2 separate regions of the Homo sapiens genome follow, and region 1 is linked to region 2. The links come from fine-mapping of genetic effects on gene expression. A gene starts in region 2. The other region holds a variant in brackets. All regions are shown on one strand. Distances are between the middles of the regions. Region 1 overlaps SENP5 (SUMO specific peptidase 5). Region 2 holds the start of NCBP2AS2 (NCBP2 antisense 2 (head to head)).

Region 1 (5,000 bases), 34 kb before region 2:
GGGTAAGGGAATGTTTCTCATAGGAAGTAATATTTAAGCAGAAATATCAAAGATGAATACAAGTTAACTAGGTAAATGGAGAATAGGGGTATGTGAAACATAGGCAGAAGGAATAAGTATCTGGTAGAAGAATGGGAAAAGGCTAGTGTAGCTGAAATGCAGAGAGTTAAGAAGACAGTGGCATGAAGTGTACCTGATCCACAGATCAGGGCCTTGAGGTTTGTATTTTGGATTTTATCCTAAATGTAATAGGAAACCATTGAATGGTTTTTAGTGACATTATCCACTTTGTAGTCTTTGTTCTAACAGTACTGAAGAAGATGGATGGGTATGGGAGCAAAGTTGATGTGGGCAGAACAGGAGACCATTTCAGATTCATGGTACTTTGAAGTAGAATGATAGCAGGAGAGATGGAAGATGAGTGTGATGTAGGAAGTAAAATTAACAGGATTTGGTGATAAGTTGGTTATGGAGATGAAGGACAAGGAAGTGTGAAAGATGACTTCCAAGTATGTGACTTGTATGACTGGACGGCCTATGGTTGTATTTACATTAGAAAAATGTAGGACAACTAGTAGAGGATTGTTCAAATTTAAAATGTACAGTCATATAATTGGATGCTACTTAAGCAGGAAAAGCTGTGTAGATAATGAACGATGGGCCGGGCACAGTGGCTCACATCAGTAATCCCAGCACTTTGAGGGGCCGAGGCAGGCGGATCACGAGGTCAGGAGATAGAGACCATCCTGGCTAACACGGTGAAACCCCATCTCTATTAAAAATACAAAAAAATTAGCCGGGCGTGGTGACGGATGCCTGTAGTCCCACTTACTCAGGAGACTGAACCCAGGAGGCGGAGCTTGCAGTGAGCCAAGATCGCACCACTGCACTCCAGCCTGGGCGACAGAGAGACTCCGTCTCAAAAAAAAAAAAAAAAGATAATGGAAGATGCTTATATTCCATTTGGGGTGGGAAAAATTACAAGCAGTGTGGGCAAAAAATATACATTCATGGAAAAGTATCTGAATGATAAACATGAGAGTGAAAGAATAAAGTCAAATATGTGAGTTGTTTCATTAAATAATAAACTAAATTATTCCTTCCTCTAGATCAGGGGTGTCCAATCTTTTGGCTTCCCTGAGCCTCACTGGAAGAAGAAGAGTTGTCTTGGGCCACACATAAAATACACCAACACTAACAATAGCTGATGAGCTAAAACAAAAAAAATTGCAAAAAAGATCTCATAAAAGAAAGTCTACAAATTTGTGTTCGGCTGCATTCAGAGCCGTCCTGGGCTGCATGCTGCCCGTGGGCTGTGGACTGGACAAGCTTGCTGTAGATCCTCTGAGATTGGGTTAAGTAAAAAAAAAAAAAACCCAGGTTTATGCTGAATATAAGAAGTATACATAAAATAATATGAAAAAGAAAGGTTGAAAATGAAGTGACATTTAAAGAGGCTGGGCGCTGTGTCTCACATCTGCAGTCTGAACACTTTGGGAGGCCTAAAATTACTGTAGATGGGAGGATTGCTTGAGCCCAAGAGTTTCAAATCAGCCTAGGCAACCAAGCGAGACCCCGTTTCTATAAAAAATTTAAAAAACTTAGCTGGCCATGGTGGCAGCCTGTGGTCCCAGTTATCCAGAAGGCTGCGGTGGGAGGATCACTTGAGCCTGGGAGGTCGAGGCTGCAGTGAACCCTGATCACGCCACTGCACTCCTGCCTGGGTGACAGACTGAGACCTTGTCTCAATTTAAAACAAATAAAAAAGGCAACTACAGGAAAGTTAAACAACCTGTTCCTGAATAACTCCTGGGTAAATAAAGAAATTAAGGCAGAAATCAAGAAGTTCTTTGAAACCAATGAGAACAGAGAGACAATGTACCAGAATCTCTGGGACACAGCTAAAGCAGTGTTAAGAGGGAAGTTTATAGCACTAAATGCCCACATCGAAAAGCTGGAAAGATCTCAGATCAACATCCTGACATCACAATTAAAAGAACTAGAGAAGCGGCTGGGCGTGGTGACTCATGCCTGTAATCCCAGCACTTTGGGAGGCTGAGGCGGGTAGATCACCTGAGGTCAGGAGTTTGAGATGAGCCTGACCAACATGGAGAAACCCCATCTCTACTAAAAATACAAAATTGGCTGGGTGTGGTGGCACATGCCTGTAATCCCAGCTACTTGGGAGGCCGAGGTAGGAGAATCACTTGAACCCGGGAGGTGGAGGTTGTGGTGAGCTGAGATTGCGCCATTGCACTCCAGCCTGGGCAAGAAGAGTGAAACTCTGTCTCAAAACAAACAAACAAAAACAACAACAAGGAAATAGAGAAGCAAGAGCAAACAAATCCAAAAGCTAGCAGAAAACAAGAAATAACTAAGATCAGAGCAGAACTGAAGGAGATAGAAACACAAAAAAACCCTTCAAAAAATCAGTGAATCCAGGAGCTGGATTTTTTGAAAAAATTAACAAAAAATACCTCTAGCTAAACTAAAGAAGAAAAGAGAGAAGAATCAAATAGACACAATAAAAAATGATAAAGGGGATATCACCATTGACCCCACAGAAATATACAAATTACTATCAGAGAATACTATAAAGACCTCTACACAAATAAACTAGAAAATCTAGAAGAAACGGATAAATTCCTGGACACATACACCTTCCCAAGACTAAATCAGGAAGAAGTGGAATGTCTGAATAGACCAATAACAAATTCTGAAATTGAGGCAGTAATTAATAGCCTACCAACCACAAAAAGCCCAGGACCAGATGGATTCACAGCCAAATTCTACCAGAGGTACAAAGAGGAGCTGATACCATTCCTTCTGAAACTATTTCATAACAATTGAAAAGGAGGAACTCCTCCCTA[G/T]CTCATTTTATGAGGCCGGCATCATCCTGATACCAAAACCTGGCAGAGACACAAAAAAAGAAAATTTCAGGCCAATATCCCTGATGAACATCGGTGCGAAAAATTCTCAATAAAATGCTGGCAAACCAAATCCAGCAGCACATCAAAAAGCTTATCCACCATGATCAAGTTGGCTTCATCCCTGGGATGCAAGGCTGATTCAACATATGCAAATCAGTAAACATAATCCGTCATATAAACAGAACCAGTGACGAAAACCACATGATTATTTCAGTAGATGCAGAAAAGACCTTCGATAAAATTCAGCATCCCTTCATTTAAAAACTCTCAATAAACTAGGTATTCATCAAACATATCTCAATAATAAGAGCTATTTATGACAAACCCATAGCCAATATCAGTGGGCAAAAGCTGGAAACATTCCCTTTGAAAACTGGCACAAGACAAGGATGCCCTCTCCCATCACTTCTATTCAACATAATATTGGAAGTTCTGGCCAGGGCAATCAGGCAAGAGAAAGAAATACAGGGTATTCAGATAGAAAGAGAGGAAGTCAAATTGTCTCTTGCAGATGGCATGATTCTATATTTAGAAAATGCCATCGTCTCAGCCCCAAAACCCCTTACGTTGATAAGAAACTTTAGCAAAGTCTCAGGATACAAAATCAATGTGCAGAAATCACAAGCATTCCTATACGCCAGCAATGGACAAGCAGAGAGCCAAATCATGAATGAACCCCCATTCACAATTGCTACAAAGAGAATAAAATACCTAGGAATACAGTTTATAAGGGATGTGAAGGACCTCTTCAAGGAGAACTACAAACCACTGCTCAAGGAAGTAAGAGAGGACACAAACAAATGGAAAAATATTCCATCCTCGTGGATAGGAAGAACCAGTATCTTGAAAATGGCCATACTGCCCAAAGTAATCTTTTTTTTTTTTTTTTTTTTTTTTTTTTTGAGATGGAGTCTCGCTCCATTGCCCAGGCTGGAATGCAGTGGCATGATCGTGGCTCACTGCAACCTCCACTTCCCGGGTTCAAGCAATTCTCCTGCCTCAGCCTCCCGAGTAGGTGGGACTACAGGCATGCACCACCATGCCCAGCTAATTTTTTGTATTTTTAGTAGACACAGGGTTTCGCCGTGTTAGCCAGGATGGTCTCGATGTCCTGACCTCGTGATCCGCCTGCCTCGGCCTTCCAGAGTGCTGGGATTATAGATGTGAGCCACCACTCCTGGCTGCCCAAAGTAATTAATAGATTTAATGCTATTCCCATCAAACTACCATTGGCATTCTTCACAGAATTAGAAAAAACTACTTTAAAATTCATATGGAAACAAAAAAGAGCCTGTATAGCCAAGACAATCCTAAGCAAAAAGAACAAAGCTGTAGGCATCACATACCTAACTTCAAACTATACTACAAGGCTACAGTAGCCAAAACAACGTGGTATTGGTACCAAAACAGGCATATAGACCAATGGAACAGAACAGAGACCTCAGAAATAACACCACACATACACAACCATCTCATCATTGACAAACCCGACAAAAGCAATGGGGAAAGGATTCCCTATTTAATAAATGATGCTGGGAAAACTGGCTAGCCATATGCAGAAAACTGAAACTGGACCCCTTCCTTACACCTTATACAAAAATTAACTCAAGATGAATTAAAGACTTAATTGTAAAACACAAAATCGTAAAAACCCTAGAAGAAAACCTAGGCAGTACCATTCAGGACATAGGCGTGGGCAAAGACTTCATGACAAAAACACCAAAAGCAATTGCAGCAAAAGCCAACATGGATTCTAATTAAACTAAAGAGTTTCTGCTCAGCAAAAGAAACTATCATCAGAGTGAACAGGCAACCTATAGAATTGGATAAAATTTTTGCAGTCTACCCACCTGACAAAGATCTAATATCCAGAATCTACAAGGAACTTAAGCAGATTTACAAGAAAAATAAACCATCAGAAAGTGGGCAAAGGATATGAACAGACACTTCGCAAAAGAAGACATTTATGTCTGTAGTCTCAGCTACTCGAGAGGCTGAGACAGGAGAATTGCTTGACCTGGGAAGTGGAAGTTGCAGTGAGCCAAGATTGCGCCACTGCACTCCAGCCTG
Region 2 (5,520 bases):
AAATTGGGATGACAGGATGAAGCCAGAGACTTAAGCATATAACTGGGCTTCATCCAACACACCTGACAGACAAAGCCCTGGGTCCAAAATGGCTCATCGGGGTCAGGCGCGGTGGCTCATGCCTGTAATCCCAGCACTTTGGGAGGCTGAGGCGAGTGGATCGCCTGAGGTCAAGAGTTTGAGACCAGCCTGGCTAACATAGTGAATGAAACCCTGTCTCTACTAAAAATACAAAAATTAGCTGGGCATGGTAGCAGCGGGCGCCTGTAATCCCAGCTACTCGGGAGGCTGAAGCAGGAGAATCGCTTGAACCTGGGAGGTGGAGGTTGCAGGGAGCTGAGATTGCACCACTGCACTTGAGCCTGGACAACAAGAGTGAAACTCTATCTCAAAAAAAAAAAGTCCACAGGACAATAGTCATTGTATGTTAAAAAGAGGTTTTCGGAACTTTGGAGTGAGACATTAGAGAAAGTAAATTCCTTTCATTTTACTGCTGTTACTGATTTGTGAACATGGAAAGGAGGCATCTTCTTTTTCTACTTTTCTCACACATGTAAGTAAGATCCAAATAAATAGCCTACAGTTTAAGATAACTGTGGTGTAAGTGCTTAAAGTATATTAATATGGATTCCATTCACAGAATGCTAGAAATTCCACATGACAGTATGGCATTAGCATCTAAAAAAAGCTACAGGTTTAGACTGAGGAGATGAATAATAGACAAAGTCAGAAGGTTCCAGTTTTCATCTCACAGGATGCTTTAAGTTCAAAATGGTCAGGATGTGGAACTGTCTAAAGTAGTAACTAAAAGTGGTAGAAGTGCAAATCATGCCTGGCACTTAGGCATCCCAGCACTTTGGGAAGCCCCAGGCAGGTGGATCGCTTGAGTCCCAGAGTTCGAGACTGGCCTGAGCAACACAGGGAGACCCTGTCTCTACAAAAAATTAGCTGGATGTGGTGGCGCGAGCCTGTGGTCCCAGCTTCTCAGGAGGCTGAGGTGGGTAGGATCACTTAGGCTCAGGAGGTTGAGGCTGCGTGAGCCGTGATTGCGCCACTGCACTTCAGCCTAGGCAATAAAGCGAGACTCTGTCTCAAAAAATAAAATACATTAACTGAATAAATTTTTTTTTTTTGAGAAGGAATATCGCTCTGTTGCCCAGGCTGGAGTGCAGTGGCGCGATCTCACAGCAACCTCCACCTCCCCGGTTCAAGCGATTCTCCTGCCTCAGCCTCCCGAATAGCTGGGATTACAAGCGCCTGCCACCACGCCCGCCTAATTTTTGTATTTTTAGTAAGACGGGGTTTCACCATCTTGGCCAGGCTAGTCTTGAACTCCTAACCTCGTGATCCACCCGCCTCAGCCTCCCAAAGTGCTGGGATTACAGGCGTGAGCCACCGTTCCCAGCCTTGACTAAATAAATCTAAGAGCTTCCCTAATTTAGCGTCAAACAAAATTTCCCTTTCCCTACTCTAGTAACACATTTCACACATTCTCCACACTTACCCTCTGCTATATGCGCCCCTTCCTTTCCCAGTCACAAGGGGATTTTTCCCTTTTCTGAATCCTCACTACAGGGGATTATGAGCTCGCAGAGCGCAGAAACTGTCTTCCCTCTCCCTCTAGGGTTTAGCACAAGGATTTGGCGACAGCACTCGATAAACGTTTACTAAATAATTGGGTTAATGAGTCCCGCCCCGCCAACCCCCAACCGTATTCCATCCCTACCTCCGCTGATACTGAAAAGTCTACTTTGAATATCTGCTGCCTCCCCTTTTTCCACAAAATATACTGTGATATAGTCCGGACTAAAAATTTCCCTCTTCTGAAATCCAGCAATTCTCCGATCTTTACATCCGAACACCCTCAAAGTGCCGAGCTTGGCGGGTCCACCTCCCCACTCCGAAGCTTCCCCGAGGGCGGAGTGAGGACTCCACTTGTGTCTCCCACGCACCGCGTACAGCTTCCGTAACACCATCCTCCCAGAGAAGGGGCCCGAATCGCCGAAGGGCACTGCTTCGCCGATTTAAAAAACAAAGCAAAAAGCCCCGCATCTGCATCAGGAAGGCGCCTCTGCCTACTCTGGGAGAGAGAAGGGCACCCCTCCCCCTTGCTACGTAGTCGTCTGCGGAGGCACAACCGTGGAAACGGGAGCCGCCACCACCACCACCGCTCAAACCTCTCGGCACTGGCTGGGGTACAGGGAGCGGCTGCGAGCGAATGGGATAAGCGAGCCTCCAGTTCCCCGTCTTCCAGAGCAAGTGGCTTCAGTGATATCCAAGCGCCCTTCCAGCACCCATTCCCTGCCTCGCCAGCAGGCACCGGGGCCCCACTTGGCGTTTGCGGATTTCAGCTGAATGGGAGGCGACACAATGAGACAAGAGCAAACCGTTTCTCAGCGTTCTTGCCCAGGGCCTTCCCGTCTCGCGGCCCGGCCTCCCTCACCCGGAAGTGCTGGTCCCGGTACTGGCTCAGCTCCACGTAGGAGTCGCTGCGCAGCGCCTTCAGGAGGCCACCCGACATAGTGCAGAGAAGCGGACCACAATGCGGCGACTCCCGGCACGAGGCTGCGTCCGCGATGGCGGAAGCGGAAACGCGCGGAGGCGAGCATCTCATTGGACCCAATCCGAGGGCGGCGTGTCGTCATCAAGCTGCGCGGGGGCATAGACGTCCGGGTCGGGCGCCGCGGGGCGGAAGACGAGGGCGGCGAGGTCGGGTTCCGGGCGCTTGGAGAAGATGGTGCTGCGGCGGCTGCTGGCCGCCCTGCTGCACAGCCCGCAGCTGGTGGAACGTCTGTCAGAGTCGCGGCCTATCCGACGTGCGGCGCAGCTCACGGCCTTCGCACTGCTGCAGGCCCAGCTGCGGGGCCAGGACGCGGCCCGCCGCCTGCAGGACCTCGCGGCTGGGCCCGTGGGCTCCCTGTGCCGCCGCGCTGAGCGATTTAGAGACGCCTTCACCCAGGAGCTACGCCGCGGCCTCCGAGGCCGCTCGGGGCCACCACCAGGTAGCCAGAGGGGCCCTGGCGCAAACATTTAATCCTGGGCTGTGCGGGGCCGAGGCCGCTTGCTTTTCCTTCCGGGCTCTACAGTGGCATCAATGTGGAGGGGTCATTCCGGGCACTGCGCGCGGCTTCGAATCCCGACTGGGATTGTTGGCCTGCAGACATCCCACGCATAAGAGCCTAGGCCAGACCGCCCGCTCCGTTGAAGTCTTGTGATTGGACAAGACACAGTGTGGAGACAGCCCTAAGCCTAACAGAGATGAAGGTAGGCTGGGTCCAGACACGGCACCTACGGAGAGCCACGGACCGAAGCCAGAGAGCCTTTCCTCTGCAAGTGGGACTGAAACTCTTGACAGATGCTGCTCAATCTGACTGGTATAGCAGGACAGTTAATTCCAGGGACGATATGGATGAAAAGACAACCCTACAGCTGCCAAATTCCTTTGATTAAATGTGTGAGCTGGTTGATAGGCATGAGTGTGATACTTCTCAGGCAAGATGTGTTAAGAATACCGGGGACTGTAGGCCTATGGTAATAATAAACACGTATTTTATGAAATGAGTCTTCTGTGCTGGGACTTGCTCATTGCACTCTATGTGTTATCTCACTCCTTACAACGACATTCACATGAGGAAGCAGATTACTTTTTGGATTTTTTTGTAGAGATGGGGTGGTCTCGAACTCTTGGGCGCAAGTGATCCTCCCGCCTCAGCCTCCCAAAGTGCTGGGATTATAGGCAAGAGCCACTGCGATGGAAACAGAGGCTGCTGCTTAAGTTGCCCAAAGTCTTGCAGAGTGGGATGTGAGCAGAGGCATTTGACTCCAGGGCCTAAGTCCTTAACACAGCTCTGCAGCATTTACCCTGATACTCAACCCCTTCCTTCCCCAACCCCCCACCATCAGGCATTAAGACTACTGCCTAGGGGCAGGGCCTGGTGGCAGTTGTGTCTTATCCCAGCCACTGCAGAGGCAGGAGGATCGCATGAGCCTGAGATGAGACCAGCCTGGGTAGCATAGCGAGAACCTTTCTCAAAAAAAAAAAAAAAAAAAAAAAAGACTACTGCCTGCCATGGAACAAGTTACCTGGACTCCTATCCTGTGGGGAAAAGAGAGATCAGATTGTTACTGTGTCTGTGTAGAAAGAAGTAGACATAGGAGACTCCATTTTGTTCTGTACTGAGAAAAATTCTTCTGCCTTGAGATGCTGTTAATCTGTAACCCCACCCCCAACCCCCTGCTCTCTGAAACATGTGCTGTGTCCACTCAGGGTTAAATGGATTAAGGGCGGTGCAAGATGTGCTTTGTTAAACAGATGCTTGAAGGCAGCATGCTCGTTAAGAGTCATCACCACTCCCTAATCTCAAGTACCGAGGGACACAAACACTGCGGAAGCCCACAGGGACCTCTGCCTAGGAAAGCCAGGTATTGTCCAAGGTTTCTCCCCATGTGATAGTCTGAAATATGGCCTCGTGGGAAGGGAAAGACCTGACCGTCCCTCACAGCGTGACACCCGTAAAGGGTCTGTGCTGAGAAGGATTAGTGAAAGAAGAAGGAACGCCTCTTTGCCGTTGAAACAAGAGGAAGGCATCTGTCTCCTGCCCGTCCCTGGGCAATGGTGTAAAACCCGATTGTATGTTCCATCTACTGAGTTAGGGGAAAACCGCCTTAGGGCTGGAGGTGGGACATGGGGGCAGCAATACTGCTCTGTAAGGCATTGAGATGTTTATGTGTATGCATATCTAAAGCACAGCACTTAGTTCTTTACCTTGTCTATGACACAGAGACCTTTGTTCACGTGTTTATCTGCTGACCTTCTCTCCACTATTATCTTATGACCCTGACACATCCCCCTCTCCGAGAAACACCCAAGAATGATGAATAAATACTAAGGGAACTCAGAGGCCGGCGGGATCCTCGTCTGCTGAATGCCGGCCCCCTGGGCTCCCTTTTTTCTTTCTCTATACTTTGTGTCTCTTTCTTTTCCAAGTCTCTCCTTCCACCTAACGAGAAACACCCACAGGTGTGGAGGGGCAACCCACCCCTTCACTACCCCTCATTTTAGAGGGTCAGGGATACAGACAGACTACGATCCAGCCAGTTAGCAGACCTGCGATTAGGAAATCCATTGTATATAGAAATGTCCTGTCATTTGAAGCTCCTAGCTAAATTTCTGATTTTTTTTTTGAGACAGGACCTAACTCTTGCCCAGGCTGGAGTGCAGTGGCACAATACTAGCTGTCACTGCAACCTCGACCCGTTGGGCCAAGCGATCTTCCTCCCTGGGACTCCCAAGTAGCTGGGATTACGGGCCCATGACACTATGCCCAGCTAATTAAAAACTTTTTTTCTGTTTTTTTTGTTTTTTTGAGACGGAGCCTTACTCTGTCACCAGGCTGGAGTGCAGTGGTGCGATCTCGGCTCACTGCAACCTCCACCTCCCGGGTTCAAGTGATTCCCCTGCCTCATCCTCCTGAGCAGCTGGGACTACAGGTGCGTGCCACCATGCCTGGCTAATTTTTT

Evidence for each region. PIP is the estimated chance that this variant, and not a neighbour inherited with it, causes the effect.
Region 1: its variant is the best candidate, but not a certain one, in a credible set for the expression of NCBP2AS2 in whole blood (INTERVAL, PIP 0.86).

What each region holds. Positions count from the first base shown.
Region 1 is chr3:196,906,533-196,911,532 of GRCh38, forward strand. The region is part of intron 6 of SENP5 (SUMO specific peptidase 5); the gene reads left to right. Among named protein-coding and RNA genes, the nearest start is that of NCBP2-AS1, 31 kb to the right of the region's middle. The variant G/T (reference allele first, on the strand shown) is at 2,871.
Region 2 is chr3:196,939,983-196,945,502 of GRCh38, forward strand. It overlaps NCBP2AS2 (NCBP2 antisense 2 (head to head)), which reads left to right and starts at 2,692. Exons shown (of 1, transcript NM_001355243.2): 1 at 2,692-3,561. The coding sequence starts at 2,735. The coding sequence ends at 3,034. NCBP2 (nuclear cap binding protein subunit 2) reads right to left here and starts at 2,546. Exons shown (of 4, transcript NM_007362.5): 1 at 2,444-2,546. The coding sequence starts at 2,521. It overlaps NCBP2-AS1 (NCBP2 antisense RNA 1), which reads left to right. Exons shown (of 3, transcript NR_046630.1): 1 at 1-145; 2 at 992-1,160; 3 at 2,411-2,552. RefSeq lists enhancers at 1,878-2,551, 2,010-2,249, 2,280-2,419, 2,470-2,769, 2,552-3,225 and 2 more.